3 separate regions of the Homo sapiens genome follow, and regions 1 and 2 are each linked to region 3. Evidence: fine-mapped expression QTL. A gene starts in region 3. Each other region holds a variant in brackets. All regions are shown on one strand. Distances are from middle to middle. Region 1 overlaps ACCS (1-aminocyclopropane-1-carboxylate synthase homolog (inactive)). Region 2 has its middle 52 kb from the start of ALX4. Region 3 holds the start of EXT2 (exostosin glycosyltransferase 2).

Region 1 (2,758 bases), 23 kb after region 3:
GGCAAAGTCCACACTCAAGCCCAGTGGTCTGACTCCAGGGCCCACCACCCTGATTACTACACTAGAAGAACACGTGCTTTACAATCAGTCTTGGGATCAAGTCCTGCTCAGCCGCTGAGCCCTTAGAACAGTGTCCACAAGCAAGTGTTCAATAAGCACAAGCTATTAGTGTTATTTACCACCTCCCCTCTTAGCATTAGGAAAAGGCCCCAGCCAGCTCCCCGAACAGCAATTCTGGCTTCTCTAAAGCTACCATCAAAGCAAGGACAAAGACTTCTCACCTGAAGGCCCTCCCCATGCTTTAAACCCAGGTTCCCAGAAACCAGACTAGCGAGCTCCTGTGCTGAGGTGGGACTGGCAGGAGACCCCATAGTCGCCAGGTCTCCAGGACTAGGCCCTCAGCCTGCCACTACTGATGTTCGGGGCCAGGTCATTCTTCATTGTGGGGGCTGTCCTGTACATTGTAGAACTTTAGGCAGCATCCCTGACCTCTACACACTAAATGCCAGGAGCACCTGACTTCCCAGTTATAACAACCAAAAATGTCTCCCAACATTGCCACACATCCCCAGGGGGACAAACTCACCCTATGGCAACTACTTACAACAGATGTCCCCTCCAGTCAGCATACTGCAGCAGGGATGGCTCCACCCTCTGCATGTCGCGCTGACTCAGCTGGGGACAGAGAGGGAAGAGCACGGCTGAGGGCCAGCACTGCTACCAGCATCCACAGCACAGGGCAGGTAAAGCTGAACGCTTGTTCTGCTCATCAGAGAAACTGCGAGAGGGGCAGAGAGTGACAGCTTTCTCATACCCATGTTGCAGGTGAGGAAACTGAGGTCCAAAAAAGTGAGGTCACTCAGCCAAGGTCACAGAGCTAGCAAGTGGCAGAGCTGAGACAAAAACCCAAAATTTTTGACTCCTAGTCTGGCATTCTTTATACAACACTGCCACCTAAAAAAATCGGAGGGGTGGGTTTGCAAAAGTATTAACGGAAGAGCACACTGATCAGCATCTCCATGGGGTGATAGAAGATACTGAGAGCTAGAACCTCAGTCTTGGCTCCAACTTCTAGAGGGACTTAGGCCACTGTCTTCCTGCAAGCTCAGCTCAACCTCACACTTTAAAAAAAGTAGCAGTTTCTAGACCACCCATTCCATGACCAGTGCTAGGTTAGAAACTCCTAGTATTGTAGGTCCTTTGTCAAAGAAGGGCCAATGCAGGGGCCTTACGCACTGGGGCCAAAAGGAAGAAA[G/A]GGAATCAGCCACTTCTACATAACTGGGTCCAGCCTTTGCCCTCTCTCCCTTCCTCCCTTAGAGCCACACTGTCCAACATGGTAGCCACTGGCCACATGTGGCTAATGAACATTTGAAATGTGGTTCATCTGAATTAAGACACACTGGATTTTGAAAACTTGGTAGGAAAAAAGTATGTAAAATATATCATTAATAATTTTTGTACTGATGACATGCTAAAATGGTCATATTTTGAATATATTGGGCTAAATAAAATATATTATTAAAATTAGTTTTTACCTGGCATCTTTTTATTTTTTTTAATAGAAAATTTAAATTGATATATGTGGCTCACCTTTTATTTCAGTGCTTAGCTGCCTTAGAAGGAGGAGCTGGCTTTAGGTAAAACAGGCCTTTAAAATCTATTCCCTGGCCGGGTGCAGTGGCTCACGCCTGTAATCCTAGCACTTTGGGAGGCCAAGGCGGGCGAATCACAAGGTCAGGAGTTCGAGACCAGCCTGGCCAAAATGGTGAAACCCTGTCTCTACTAAAAATACAAAAATTAGCCGGGCATGGTGGTGTGTGCCTGTAATCCCAGCTACTCAGGAGGCTGTGGCAGGAGAATTGCTTGAACCCGGGAGGAGGGGGTTGTAGTGAGCTGAGATCACACCACTACACTCCAGCCTGGGCAACAGAGTAAGACTCCATCTTAAATAAATAAATAAATAAATAAATAAAATCTATTCCCTATAACCCCTTCCCCTTGGGGTTGAGATTTCTCCCTTTGGAAATATGTTCCTTTGGGTTAAGGATTGCTGTCTCTACAAACCCAAACTCTGCCACTGCCGCCTTGGGAGACACATTTATTAGGCATTGTCAGTGGTTGCTAAGATGGCTTACCACAGCTCAAGAAATCGGATTATAAAATTTTCAGAAATGTTGCAAGCTGTGTTAAAAACAGCCACTTTTAAAAAGCAAATTAATATAAACTGACAATGAAATACATTATCTTACAAACAAAGGTGATAAGCACTCAAACGTCACTGCTTCCTGATTTGCTAGTACCTTTTACTATCTATGTTTTTGAGGTCAGTTCTGTCTACATGTCTATATGGTGAAAATATTACATAAGTGTGCCCATGCAGCTCTCTTCCAACTCTGCCTGCAGTGATATCACATAAGGAGCTTGAAATCAGCCATGGTGGGAGTATTTACACTACGGAAATTGGCAAAACTACACATCAGGCTTTTTTTGTCCCCCTGAAGAGCTAATTGCTAAATACCTACACCACAAAGCACTGAGTGTTTCCCTCTGAGATCAGGGGACCCAACACAGCAGGAGGGACTGAGTGAAATAAGAGTCTACAGAGATGAAGAAATAGGACTACAGTGGGGAAGAAACTCACCTAAGATCACACAGAAAACTGTCCCAAGGTAGGCCTGGAACCCGGGTCTCCTGATTCCCAGGCCAGGGCCACTGAGCCAAGCAGCAGGCTCCTGTTGGGAAAGCATTCCAGGGAAGA
Region 2 (2,758 bases), 160 kb before region 3:
TGACACCAGGAGCACAGGGTGGACCTCCAGGAGAGGCGGGTCCCAGTTCTGGCTCTGCTACTGAGTGGGCAGGGGAACTGTCCTTCCAGGACATATGGCCAGACAACTTTTAAAGCAAACCTCTGAAGACAAATTATGAAGCAGAAGGAACCCAGGTTCTACTGTCGTATAGGTGTTTCCTTGCTTTCCAGCACGAAGGCGACTCAGGAAGAGGCAGTCAGCCTCCAAGGGACCACTGTGTGGACAGGGAGTCATTTTTGTTGACCAAACCAGCTGAGTCTAAGTTCTCACATCTGAAGGATAGAAACAAGCCCTGTCCCTGCTTAGCTTACCAATGGAGGGGGGAGGATTAAGTGGACAATGTCCATGCATGGGCTTTGTAAGCCGATGTGGCATAGTGACATAAGGGACAATGATTACTCCCAGAGAATGACATCTCCCTCCAGCTCCCAGCTGTGAGTCTGATAAAACAATAACAACAACAACAAGCTCCATTTTATCCTCTCTTTCCAACTATTTGGACATTGTTCTCTTGGAACCACATCTCAGATTTGATACCTGTGTCAGTGCATTCACATTCAGTATAGACCCAACTGGGTTTTAGGTTGACCTGGGCTGGGAGCTTGTTTTTTTAAAAAATGACACCTGTCCTATATTAGGGCTCAGGGTCATGGTAGCACTTGGACACTCCACACCAAATCACTGCCAAGTCACAGGGCAGGAATTGAAGCAGAGAGGGAGAAAAGCCATGTGCAAACCACATGCGAAACCACGGGGTGTTGTCTCTACCTCACACCCCTGCTTCTTCCTGTGGGAGCTGAGCACCCCCCAAATCCTTCAGAGTCCAGATGAGCACCACTGCTGAAGAGGAAGACTGGCCTGATGTGTGACTTAGGCATCACGGGGGATGCAGGTAGCCCACCCCTGGGACCTGTGCCTCCAAGTGGTCTCTGGGGAGAACAACGACAAGGCCAGGGCCAGCAGGGCCTCCTCTGACTGTGGACTACGGCTCAGCCCTTCACTGGGTCTGACCACCCAGCACAGCTTGTTGTTCCCCAAGCCATCTAGGCCTTTTCACCTGGCCACACCACTGGACTTGCTATCTCTTCTTAGAATGCCTCTATCTCCTCCCTAGATCCCCTCCAATGCACCCAGCCACTCTGCAGTGTATCCTCCAAATGATAGCACCCTCTGTGAAGCTCTTTCTTAAGCCCATGCCCTCACCTCAACTTCCACCCCTAGGTCAAAGGCTGCCCCTCTGGCCTCCACAAAACTGT[T/A]TGTGTCATAATACCATGATGGCACATGATACCGTATATCTATTTATCCATCTGACTTCCTCACATCCCAAAGAGGAGACAGGCTGTGTTCACATCCGAATGCCTGAGAGAATAAGAATGTTAGGTAATGTGCGAATGAGTGAATGAATGGGAAGGTGAGAATAAAGAGATGCTCTGTTTTGATTAAGGGTGGGAGGAGGGAGGTCAGAGGACACTCAGGGATTCGTTTTACAGACAGCTGGAAGCTGACTCAGCCCACTAGAGATCTTCCTGGAGTGTCAGAGCCTCTGCTTGACCATGAACCTCATCCACCCCATTCCTCCAGGGTTCACATGCATTCAAGATGAGCTGTGGCCACGGCAGTAAACCTGGCCTGTTTATTTAGTGTTGCCGGGGTTGGGACAGCACTGGTCAGCACCAGGCCAGCTCCCCAAGATGGCGCAAGAGGTCCTGTGTCCAAGAGTGCACATCTGGAAGCTTCTCGACTTGTCCCTGGGCTCAAAGCCCACTTTCTCCAGCATCCCTGGATAATCCTCATGCCCTTAAGCCCTCCACTCTCAACTCCAGCTTCAGCGACTGGCTGAAGACAGCTCCTTTCCTGCCTTGGTGCCAACCCCAGCAGAAACCACTCTTGCCTTCAGCTCATCACCAATCCCATTGTCCCAGGTCTTGCTACAGGCAACACAGCCAACCCCAGGGCTCCACAAGCTGGCTGGGCCATGTGACAGCAGAATCTTCAATCTGGCGAGCAGGGCGTGGAGTGGTGGTGGTACCTCTCCTTCCACAGGTCTAGACTTGCATGCTCAGCAGCTAAGGAACAATAGGCTCTCCACAAATAGCCAGTTCCCCAAAATAGGGCTGACGGCAAACTGTGTATGTGCACAAGTGAGAAGATGCAAGTTAGCGCCAGAAGACAATGGGGTGTGAGAGTTGAAATTTTCCCAGGAATTCTGTGTGATTCCAAACAGATTTTTTTTTAAGCTCAACAAAGACCAACAGGCTTGAGGAAGGGCAAACCTCCACAGGGAGCTTCAATTTATGAGCATGTGTACACCATGTGTTAAGGTGTTGCCTTAACTAGTTGGGAGAAAACCCACTGTACTGCCTGCATGAGATCTGCCCGGAACCCCAATCAGGATGTGGTTCTTAGATGTGCAGAGGACACAGTGTTCTTGCCTTGCCTCCTGGGATTTCTCTTTGGTTGCATCACAAGCCCCCTCTCCATCCCTTCTCTGTCCTCTACCCACAGCGTACCTCTGTAATTTCCAGGCGCTTCTGGAAAGGAAGGGGCTCCCTGTAGCTATGATAGTAGGGCCAAGCTACACCATGGGAAAGAATGAAAATAAATGAGAGTGTGTATGTGTGTGTGTGTGTGTGTGTTGAGAGGACAGGGGAAGGGGATAAAAGCCTAAGGAAGAATGAAACACAAGGCAAACCATAGCTCTTCTCCAAGATAGGTATGGACAGAAAGCACTGTCCAG
Region 3 (2,752 bases):
CAACTGGAAATGCCAAAGCTAGGATTCACAGCATGGCAGTCTGGCCCCAAAACTGATTATCCATTCATACCCTCACATGCAACCAGGAAGTCGGGGAAAGTGAATGATGGAAACTGAATCATCTATTTTATTACAGTGAATAGCCTTTGAGTTCTGAAAGTTACAAACTAAGTCCAGTTAAAGTACATAGAGCACTTACCTGACTTACAAGAAGTTAAGACTTACAAGAATTTAAATGTACATATTTCAAGACCATATCTTCACATAAATAAGTCAAGAACCTTTCTAGATTAGCATTGCCCAATCAGTAACACCAAGCAATTCTTTGATTCTCAAAATTGTGTGTTTAGATCTGGTTCCCACCGAATGTAACAAAGCCCCAAACACCTCTGGACTTCAAGTTGAAGCCCAGAGCCAGTGTGCTTCTGGCCACCTAGTCCCGAGACTAACATGCCCCTGGCCCCGGCCCGACACACCCCCGGGCCACCTAGTCCCTGGCCTAACATGCCACCAGCAATCTAGTCCGCAGTCTAACATACTCCTGCCCCGTCCTGACAGGCCCCCGGCCACCCAGTCCCCTGCCTAACACGCCCCCAGCCACCTAGTGCCTGGCCCAACATGACCCCGGCCACCCAGTCCCCGGCCTAACACGCCCCCGGCCATCTAGTTCCCGGTCACCCAGTCCCCGGCCTAACACGCCCCCGACCACCCAGTCCCCGGCATAACATGCCCCTGGCCCCTTCCCTACCTCGTCCCACGGCTTCTGGCACCGCAAGGGATGCCGCAGGCCACCACCGGACCCTGAGGCGCAGGACATCCCCCTGGGAGGAATCAGATCCCTGTGGCTGGCGGGAAGGTGGCAGCAGGAAGGGAGGGGTCACGGCGGAGGGCGGAGGGCGGGTCGCAGGAGGAAAGGAAGGAGCGGACTGGGGGCGAAGGTTGGCTAGGAGAACAGGTGGGTACCAAGATGCTGAAAGCGCGGCCGCCGCCGGAGGAGAAGGAGAAGCAGGAGTGGAAATCGGAGCGCTCCAAAAGCGGGCAGTCATTGTCACAGCCCCGGCGGGGCTGGGGGTGGCCTCTCGCAGCCCACGGGCCTCCACGGAGCCTCCGCGCGGCCGCGCTCCCTCGGCCCTTGTCCCGACCCAGCAGCGGCCCCCGGAGGCCCGAGCCCTCGCTTCAGCGCCCGCCCGGCCGCCGCCCTGGAGAGCCGCGCTTACCTCGGCCACGGCTGCCTCCCGCTCGGCCCCGAGCTTGGTCACCGGCTCATGCCGCGGGGCGCGGGCCACCTCCGCCCAGGTCGGATCGGTCCGAATCGCCAGCCGCCACTGCCAGGGCCGAGTCTGGGCTGGCGAGCAGCGAGCGAGGGGCCGGTAACCGGGATCCGGGCCGTCTGACACCGAGCGCACTGCGCATGCGGGAGCTGCCGGGCCGCGCCTCCTGCTGGACAGGAGGAGTCCGAGCACCGCTGCAGTGTTTTCCCAGGCAGGCGCGCTCAGGCTCCGCAGTGAAATGCTCAGACAGCCTCATTCATAATTAAAGAATCCTTAAACCCAAACGAGACACCACGCGTTGCTTATAAAACTAACAAATATGTAGACGTTTTATTATAATCAGTTCTGGTGAGCGTATAACATTCCTGGAGGGCAATTTGGTACTATCCATCAAACGGAAAATGCTGGTACCCTTCATTCCAACAAGCTCTCTGTACGGAGTTTGCCCTATGGATATTCTCAACAATGTTTGTCAAAAAGTTCCATGACAGCATTCTTTCTAATCATAGCGAAATGCTAGACACAATCGAAATAAATTATGGAATTTGATTGATTTGAGTAATGTGAGATAGTGCAATATATTTGGGTAAGGAAATATCTCCAAGATATTAGTTAAGATCAAAGCGTAGTCCAAAACAGCGGGCAAGTCACTTTTAGGTAAACTATGCATATGCAAAAACAAGAGGGAGAAATATATAAAGTAGGTGCTTATATTCAGGCATGTGTATAACTTTTTTCTGGAAGGAATGCAAGAAGAAATGAACAGCTTCAGGTGGAGTAGTTGTCGAGGCGGAAATGGAAGCATTTATGGCGAGGAAAGGTGGCTCACGCCTGTAATTCCAGCATTTGGGGAGGCCTAAACGAGAGGATCGCTTGAGCCCAAGAGTTTGAGACCAGCCTGGGCAGCAGAGCAAGACCCCATCTCTACAAAAAATAAAAAGTTAACTAGGCATCGTAGCACACGCTTGTAGTCCCAACTACTTAGGAGGCAGAGGCAGGAAGATTGCTTGAGCCCAGGAGGTCAAGGCTGCAGTGGGCCGTGGTCGTGCCACTGCACTCCAGCCTGGGTGATAGAGCAAGACCCTGTCTCCAAAAAAAAAAAAAAAAAACGCATTTTTGTTTTGTATCTTTCTCTATTATTTACATGATTTAGCCCTATCCATGCACACTAAAACCGCTGTCATAAAGCAGTAAGTGGAAACTAAAAAATTAAATTAAAATTCAGAGCGATGTTATTGAGAGGTTAATGAAATGACCCCTGGGCCTGCGATGTTGGTTTGGTAGAGTTGTGGGTCTGGCTACAGGATCCAAATCCCTTCTGGTCCCAGATGTACTTTGGCGCCATCTGGTGGAAGTTGTCACTGATAGCTTAAATATTCAAAGTGATGATTCTGAGACTAGATACCTACAGAGGCTTCCGGCAGCAACCTCGATTCCAGGGATATTTTTGTGAGTTAATGCCTGCTTGTCACAGATCTAGG

What was found.
Region 1: its variant is fine-mapped to the expression of EXT2 in whole blood (TOPMed, PIP above 0.99).
Region 2: its variant is fine-mapped to the expression of EXT2 in spleen (GTEx, PIP 0.95).

Annotation. Positions count from the first base shown.
Region 1 is chr11:44,071,364-44,074,121 of GRCh38, reverse strand. It overlaps ACCS (1-aminocyclopropane-1-carboxylate synthase homolog (inactive)), which reads right to left. Exons shown (of 15, transcript NM_032592.4): 4 at 605-675. Among named protein-coding and RNA genes, the nearest start is that of ACCS, 6.5 kb to the right of the region's middle. The variant G/A (reference allele first, on the strand shown) is at 1,256.
Region 2 is chr11:44,257,193-44,259,950 of GRCh38, reverse strand. No RefSeq gene overlaps it. Among named protein-coding and RNA genes, the nearest start is that of ALX4, 52 kb to the left of the region's middle. The variant T/A (reference allele first, on the strand shown) is at 1,278.
Region 3 is chr11:44,094,318-44,097,069 of GRCh38, reverse strand. It overlaps EXT2 (exostosin glycosyltransferase 2), which reads right to left and starts at 1,392. Exons shown (of 14, transcript NM_207122.2): 1 at 1,218-1,392. RefSeq lists an enhancer at 436-485 and a silencer at 906-1,525.